Homo sapiens: one gene and its partner. The protein of the gene in region 1 interacts with the protein of each later gene in a pairwise test. Each region holds a gene or a part of one and is shown in the gene's direction. Other genes may lie near its edges.

Region 1 (3,654 bases):
CCCAAAGTGCTGAGATTACAGGCGTGAGCCACTGTGCCTGGCCTTGAGTAGTTTCTTGTAAAATGTGATGACTTCATTCTCTTGTCGTGGGTTGAAAAGCGAACCATTACTTGAGGACGTGCTAGAACATCATCTTCCCAAATTTTGGAGCAGGTACCTTTCCAGAAATCAGGATACCTGTCAAGCTTTGTGGAGTTTAGGGCCTTACTGTTTCCCGGAGAGCCCCCCAGGGCCTGATGAGGAAGGGCTGGGGGGGTGGGTGTGGAAGTCACGTGCTGCTCACATGACCCTCTCTCTATGAATTTTGTCTCTCCAGCCCCTCTGAAATCAAAGAGATCTTGCATCTGGCTGGACTCAATGAGCTGGAGGTGATTCCCTTGGTGCAGACATTTGGACACATGGAGGTGAGTGGCAGAAATGGAAGTTACCTGGTGCCAGGTGTGGGGTCCAGGGGCTGCAGGCTGGGCCAGGCTTGTGCCCAGGGGTGGGTGCAGCGGGCCCATGGTTGGGGTGCAGGCAGCGCAGCTCAGCACAACATGGAAAGGCCTTTGGTCTAGGAAGTCCCTGCCTGACTCGGCCAGAGCTGCAGGTTGGGGCTGCCTGTCTGCCTGAGGAATGGAAGGAAAGAGCCAGAAAAGGGGTCCTGGAGGCAGTTTCCTTTTTCACTTGTATTCATCAGAATATTATTATGTGAGGTAAAACACAGTATTAGGGAAAGAAAAGGTGCTTTTCAGGCCAGGTGCGGTGGCTCACACCAGTAGTAATCCCAGCACTTTGGGAGGCCGAGGCTGGTGGATCACCTGAGGTCAGGAGTTCGAGACCAGCCTGACCAACATGGCGAAACCCCGTCTCTACTAAAAATACAAAAATTAGCCAGGCATGGTGGCGGGCACCTGTAGTCCCAGCTGCTCGGGAGGCTGGGGCAGGAGAATCACTTGAACGCAGGAGGCAGAGGTTGCCATGAGCCAAGATCGCACCACTGCACTCCAGCCTGGGTGACAGAGCAAGACTCCGTCTCAAAAAATATATATATACACATATTCTTTTTCCTGTCTGCATCAAACAGGAAGTGATGCGGCATTAACCACCACACCGATTTAATGGCTCTTAGGTTCCATTTATTTCTCTAACAGATACACCATTCTGGCTTCTATTTCCACACACCGCGGGTAAGAAGGTTGTTTTCACTTACACATGTCGGTGTTCTGGGCGTGCCACCGGAGTTCCTTCCCACAGCTCGGTCCTCCAGCCTTTCTAGTTGATTCTCTCCATCGTACTCTGCTCTGGGACCCGGCCTGCGCTCTTAGCCTCCTGCCACGTATCCACAGAATGTCTCTGCCAAGGCCGCCAGGGTCCTCCAGGTCACTAAGTCCAGGGACGGTTTTAGTCCTTTCCTGCTGGGCCCCTCGGTAGCTTCTGGCATCCCCAGCCGCTCTCCTGAGCCCCACACTTTCTGGCTTCCCTCTGCCTCTGACTGCACCTCCTCGATATCCATTTGCATTTGTCTCTCTGTAGCTGGCGGTCCCCAGGGCTCCTCTCGGTCCCTGTCCCCACCTCCCACTCTCTCTCTAGATGGTGCCATTTCTGCTCCTGCTTTCTCTTTGTCCTCCTCTTCGTCTTCCTCTTCCTCTTCTGTCTGCACCTCAGCAACTCCAGACCTCCTGGGTTACAGACCCTCATCCCCAGCTGCCTGCTGGTCGCTTCCATTGAGGGCCCTCCTCCAGCCTCTGGTGTGCAAACCAGAAGCAGACCAGCCACAGTCAGCACCACCACCCGCCACGCCCTGACCCATGTTGGTCCTGCTGCTGCTCCTCCTCCTCTTCCTCTGTCATGCAGGCACCACCCCTGTCTAAACCACTATGGACTCACCATGAAACTTTCCTAATGGGTCTCCCGGGGCCACTCTGCCCCTCCGTGCCCCTCTCCCCACCACAGCAAGTCACAGCACAGCCCTGACCACTCACACTCGCCATCTCCTCAAAGGACACTGCTGTCAGGGCAGAAGTGATCGCCACAAACCAGGTGGCTTAAGACAACAGAAATGTTCTCTCAGCCCTGGAGACCAGACATCCAAAATCAGCGTGTCGAAGGGTTGGTTTCTTACTGAGGAAGACCCTCCATGTGTACATTTACTATTAGTATACCCTTTTTGTGTGTTTGTTTTTGAGACAGGGTCTCACTCTGTTTCCCAGGCTGGAGTGTAGTGGTGCAGTCTTGGCTCACTACAACCTCTGCTTCCGAGTTCAAGTGATTCTCCTGCCTCAGCCTCCTGAGCACCTGAGATTACAGGTGTACCCCACCATGCCCGGCTAACTTTTTATCTTTTTATTAGAGATGAGGTTTCAAGATGTTGGCCAAGCTAGTCTCAAACTCCTGGCCTCAGGCGATCCGCCTGCGTCGGCCTCTCAAAGTACTGGGATTACAGGCGTGAGCCACGGTGCCCAGCCCAGTATACCCTCTTGGTATACTAGAAATAACTGCTCAGGTGTTTTGCCCATTTTTTTTTTCAACTTGAGTTTTTAAAGTTCTTTATATGTTCTAGATGCAAGTCCTCTGATGGTATGTAATTTGCAGGTATTCTCCCCCAGTGTAGAGCTACATGCTTCTGGTGTCATTTCTAAAAACTCTTTGTGATCACCAGATCACAAAGATTTTTCTTGTATTTTCTTCTAAAGTTTAACTTCTGTGCATTTTTCATTTAGATCTATGATCCATTTTTAGTTTGGTATTTTTATTCTTTCTCCAGAACCCTTGAACATCCAAGTTATTTGTCTTGAGTCACAGACTCACTCTGTCACCCAGGCTGGAGCGCGTGGTACAATCACAGCTCACTGCAGCCCTGAGCTTCTGGGCTCAAGCTTCTGGGCTCAAGCACCTCAGCCTCCTGAGTAGCAGGGACCACAGGTGCGTGCCACCATACCCGGCCAGTTTTTTTTATTATTTGCAGATACCAGGTCCCACTATGTTGCCCAGACTGGTCTCGAACCCCTGGCCTCAAACAGTTCTCCCACCTCAGCCTCTCGGAGCGCTGGGATTATAGGCATGAGCCATTGCACCTGGCCCCATTTTGAGTTAATTTTTTTTGTTCATTTTCCTTTTTGTGAAGAGTGGGGTCTCACTATGTTGCTGGGCTGGTCTCAAACTTCTGGGCTCAGGTGATCTTCCCGCCTCTGCCTCCCTAAGTGCTAATTTTTTTTTTTTTTTTGAGACAGAGTTTCACTCTGTCACCCAGGCTGGAGTGCAGCGGCGTGATCTCAGCTCACTACAAACTCCACATTCCAAGTAGCTTCAGCCTCCCGAGTAGCTGGGATTACAGCGCCCGCCACCACACCCAGCTAATTTTTGTCTTCTTAGTAGAGACGGGGTTTTGCCATGTTGGCCAAACTGATCTCGTCGAACTCCTGACCTGAAGTGATCTGCCCGCTTCGGCCTCCCAAAGTGCTGGGACTACAGGCATGAGCCACCATGCCCGGCCTCCTTTCATTCTTACAATATATTCATAGTAGTTTTCTTGAAATATTTGATAAATTCTGCATGTGGGCCCTGAGAGTCAGAGTCTGTGAACTGGATCCTACTTTCCAGTTCATTTGCACATCTCAAAATTTTTGGTTGAGAACTGAACATTTCAGTTAATACATTATAGCAAAGCTGAAT
Region 2 (2,695 bases), on another chromosome or scaffold:
CTGGCATCTCCCTGGCCTATAGCAGTGTCCAGGATGTGCAGAAGGTATTCAGGGCGGGCTGGCTTCTGGGCTGTCCCCTTCCTCTTCTGCAGCAGGGCTTCTGTGACAGCAGGTCTCCTCCTCCCTAGTTTGCCCGGCTCTCGGCCCAGCTGACACACGCCTCCTCCCTGGGTTACAATGGCGCCATCCTGCAGGCCCTGGCTGTGCACCTGGCCTTGCAGGGCGAGTCTTCCAGCGAGCACTTTCTCAAGCAACTCCTGGGCCACATGGAGGATCTGGAGGGTGATGCCCAGTCCGTCTTGGATGCCAGGGAGTGAGTATGGGGCTGGAGGTGTGTGGTGTGGGTATGTGGGTGATCCAGGGGGCCTCTGGCATTGCCGCAAACTGTAAACCTTCCTCAATTGCAGACCCTAGGGAGGCATGGGCAGAAGCCCCTTTATCTTGTCTATGTTTCAAGGCTCTCAGGGTCCCAGAGAACGAAACGACCTGCTCACCCCAGCCCTCTCCCACCTCTTGTCGGCACCTGTGCCTGGCTGCCAGCCTGACCACATCCCTGCTCGTTCTCACATGCAGCCCTCTCCCCTGCCCGCGCCACCACCCTGCTAGCTCTGACCTCCCTGAAATCTCCCCTAAACCACAGGTTGGGCATGGAGGAGCGTCCATACTCCAGCCGCCTGAAGAAGATTGGAGAGCTTCTAGACCAGGCATCGGTGACCAGGGAGGAAGTGGTGTCTGAGCTAGGTGAGTGGGTCTGCCTGGGATTGTCTCTCCCTCTGTCGTCCTTCAGGGTCGGTCTTGGGCTCAGGGGAGCATGGAGTCATGCCTGCCGTCGCATTGTACCCTGGGCTGCTGTGACACGGAGTCAATGGCAGGGTTGAGCTCAGCGCTTCTTGCTCTGAAGCTACAGCACCCTCAGCCTTGTGGACCAGTGTCCCCAGAAATGGCAGCTGGCCACTAGTCGTAAAAATGTTGATAATGGATTTTATTTGTCTAGCATCTATACTGGGCGTTGTGCAGAATGCTTCACAGACACGATCTCGCTTCATCCTCACAACAGCCCTGTCAGAGAGTTGCTAACGTTACTCCCTGTCTGCTTAAGGAGTTGAATCTGGGAGCAGGAAGCTTAGCGGTCCCCTAGGTAACTCTCCCAGTCACGCAGCCAGTGTGTGGTGGAGCCAGGATTTGAGCCCAGGTGGTCTAACTGTAGAGCCTGAGATCTTAGTCACAGCCTGCTTGAAGCCGAGAGTGCTGACTTGTGTCAAATGGTAGGAGGCCTGGGGAAGCATGCAGCCCCTCTAACCTGGCTTCCCCACAGGGAATGGCATTGCTGCCTTTGAGTCGGTACCCACCGCCATCTACTGCTTCCTACGCTGCATGGAGCCAGACCCTGAGATCCCTTCTGCCTTCAATAGCCTCCAAAGGACTCTCATTTATTCCATCTCACTTGGTGGGGACACAGACACCATTGCCACCATGGCTGGGGCCATTGCTGGTGCCTACTATGGGATGGATCAGGTGCCAGAGAGCTGGCAGCAAAGCTGTGAAGGCTACGAGGAGACAGACATCCTGGCCCAAAGCCTGCACCGTGTCTTCCAGAAGAGTTGATGAGGGCTACAGCTGTTGGGGCTCTGCCAGGTCCCCTGGGACCAACTACAGCTCCAATCAGAAACCCTGCGCTTCCTTGAGTGTGGCTTCCCACTTTTCCTGCATTGTGGAGCTGACTGAGTACACCGGTGAGGCTGGGGTCTCTGCAGGGGAGGTCACTGGAACAGCGAGCAAGGGACTGGTGCCTCGCTGGTGCTGGGTCTCTGGTTTGCTGCAGAGCCGTAGGACACTCCTGGCTCCTCAGTAGGACAGACAGACGCAGGCGGGTTTATTTTGGAGGGGTACTTGTGGCATTTTCCTGTATTGTCTTGGACATGGGATGTGGGGAGGTGGAAATGATGAGCAGTAGCATCATTTCTCCCTGTTGGGTTTTAGCCAGTTTGCCAGCAAGCGCATCCTAGCAGGGTCCCCGAGCAGCAGGTTGTGTGGATGAAGGGACAGGCACTTGCATCCAGCTGATCTAGGTCACACCTGGCTCTTGGCTGCCATGTGGCTTATTAACAGCTTCCAGTGGAAGTCGCAATAAACAGTTTTTGGTAAATCTCACCACTGTTTCTTGTTTCTCCTGCCCTGAATGGATTCTCCCCTGCCAGCCTGATCTCTGAAGACTAGTGCCTTTGTCTGTGCTGCACTGTCATAGAAGCTGGGGCCCCAAGGCCATGAGCTGCTGTGTTGCCAGGCACTCCAGCTGGCTGCGTGTTCAGCCAGGAAGGGCACAGCAGGCATGGTCTGGTGGCTTTTCCTGTTAGAGATCACTCAAAGTGGCCCAGGCTGCTGGGCCGAGTGCTTTGCCAGAGGCAGCGGGTAGGAACAAGCCAGATTTTTCTGTTCTCAGAGCCTGACTTCCCCAAACAGGAGCTAGGCCCAGCTGGGCCAGGAACAGGAACCCTGTAGAAGGATCCAGAGGGCCCTGCTATCATCAGACTACCAACCTTTGGGTGGGGAGGGCACCATCACGGGGCCCCGGGTGGACTGAGTGCCGTGTGCCTCCTCCTGTATCTTGGGACCAATCAAAAGCCTTTCCCTGCAAGGAAGTTTTACACAGCATGTTTTTAGAGATGGGGTCTCACTCTATTGCACAGGCGATCCT

Evidence for each region. Proteins that work in one complex are often made in the same cells at the same time.
Region 2: the proteins of HEXD (region 1) and ADPRS interact in a two-hybrid assay, tested with the Homo sapiens proteins (one large-scale study listed by BioGRID and IntAct).

What each region holds. Positions count from the first base shown.
Region 1 is NC_000017.11:82,428,242-82,431,895, forward strand, and holds part of HEXD (hexosaminidase D), read left to right. Parts: intron 1-11; exon of another isoform or gene 12-67; coding exon of another isoform or gene 68-153; intron 154-316; coding exon 317-404; intron 405-1,192; exon of another isoform or gene 1,193-2,171; intron 2,172-3,654. UniProt on the Homo sapiens protein: Has hexosaminidase activity. Responsible for the cleavage of the monosaccharides N-acetylglucosamine (GlcNAc) and N-acetylgalactosamine (GalNAc) from cellular substrates. Has a preference for galactosaminide over glucosaminide substrates.
Region 2 is NC_000001.11:36,091,782-36,094,476, forward strand, and holds the end of ADPRS (ADP-ribosylhydrolase ARH3), read left to right. Parts: coding exon 1-44; intron 45-128; coding exon 129-313; intron 314-640; coding exon 641-741; intron 742-1,315; coding exon 1,316-1,605; 3' UTR 1,606-2,151; downstream 2,152-2,695. UniProt on the Homo sapiens protein: ADP-ribosylhydrolase that preferentially hydrolyzes the scissile alpha-O-linkage attached to the anomeric C1'' position of ADP-ribose and acts on different substrates, such as proteins ADP-ribosylated on serine and threonine, free poly(ADP-ribose) and O-acetyl-ADP-D-ribose.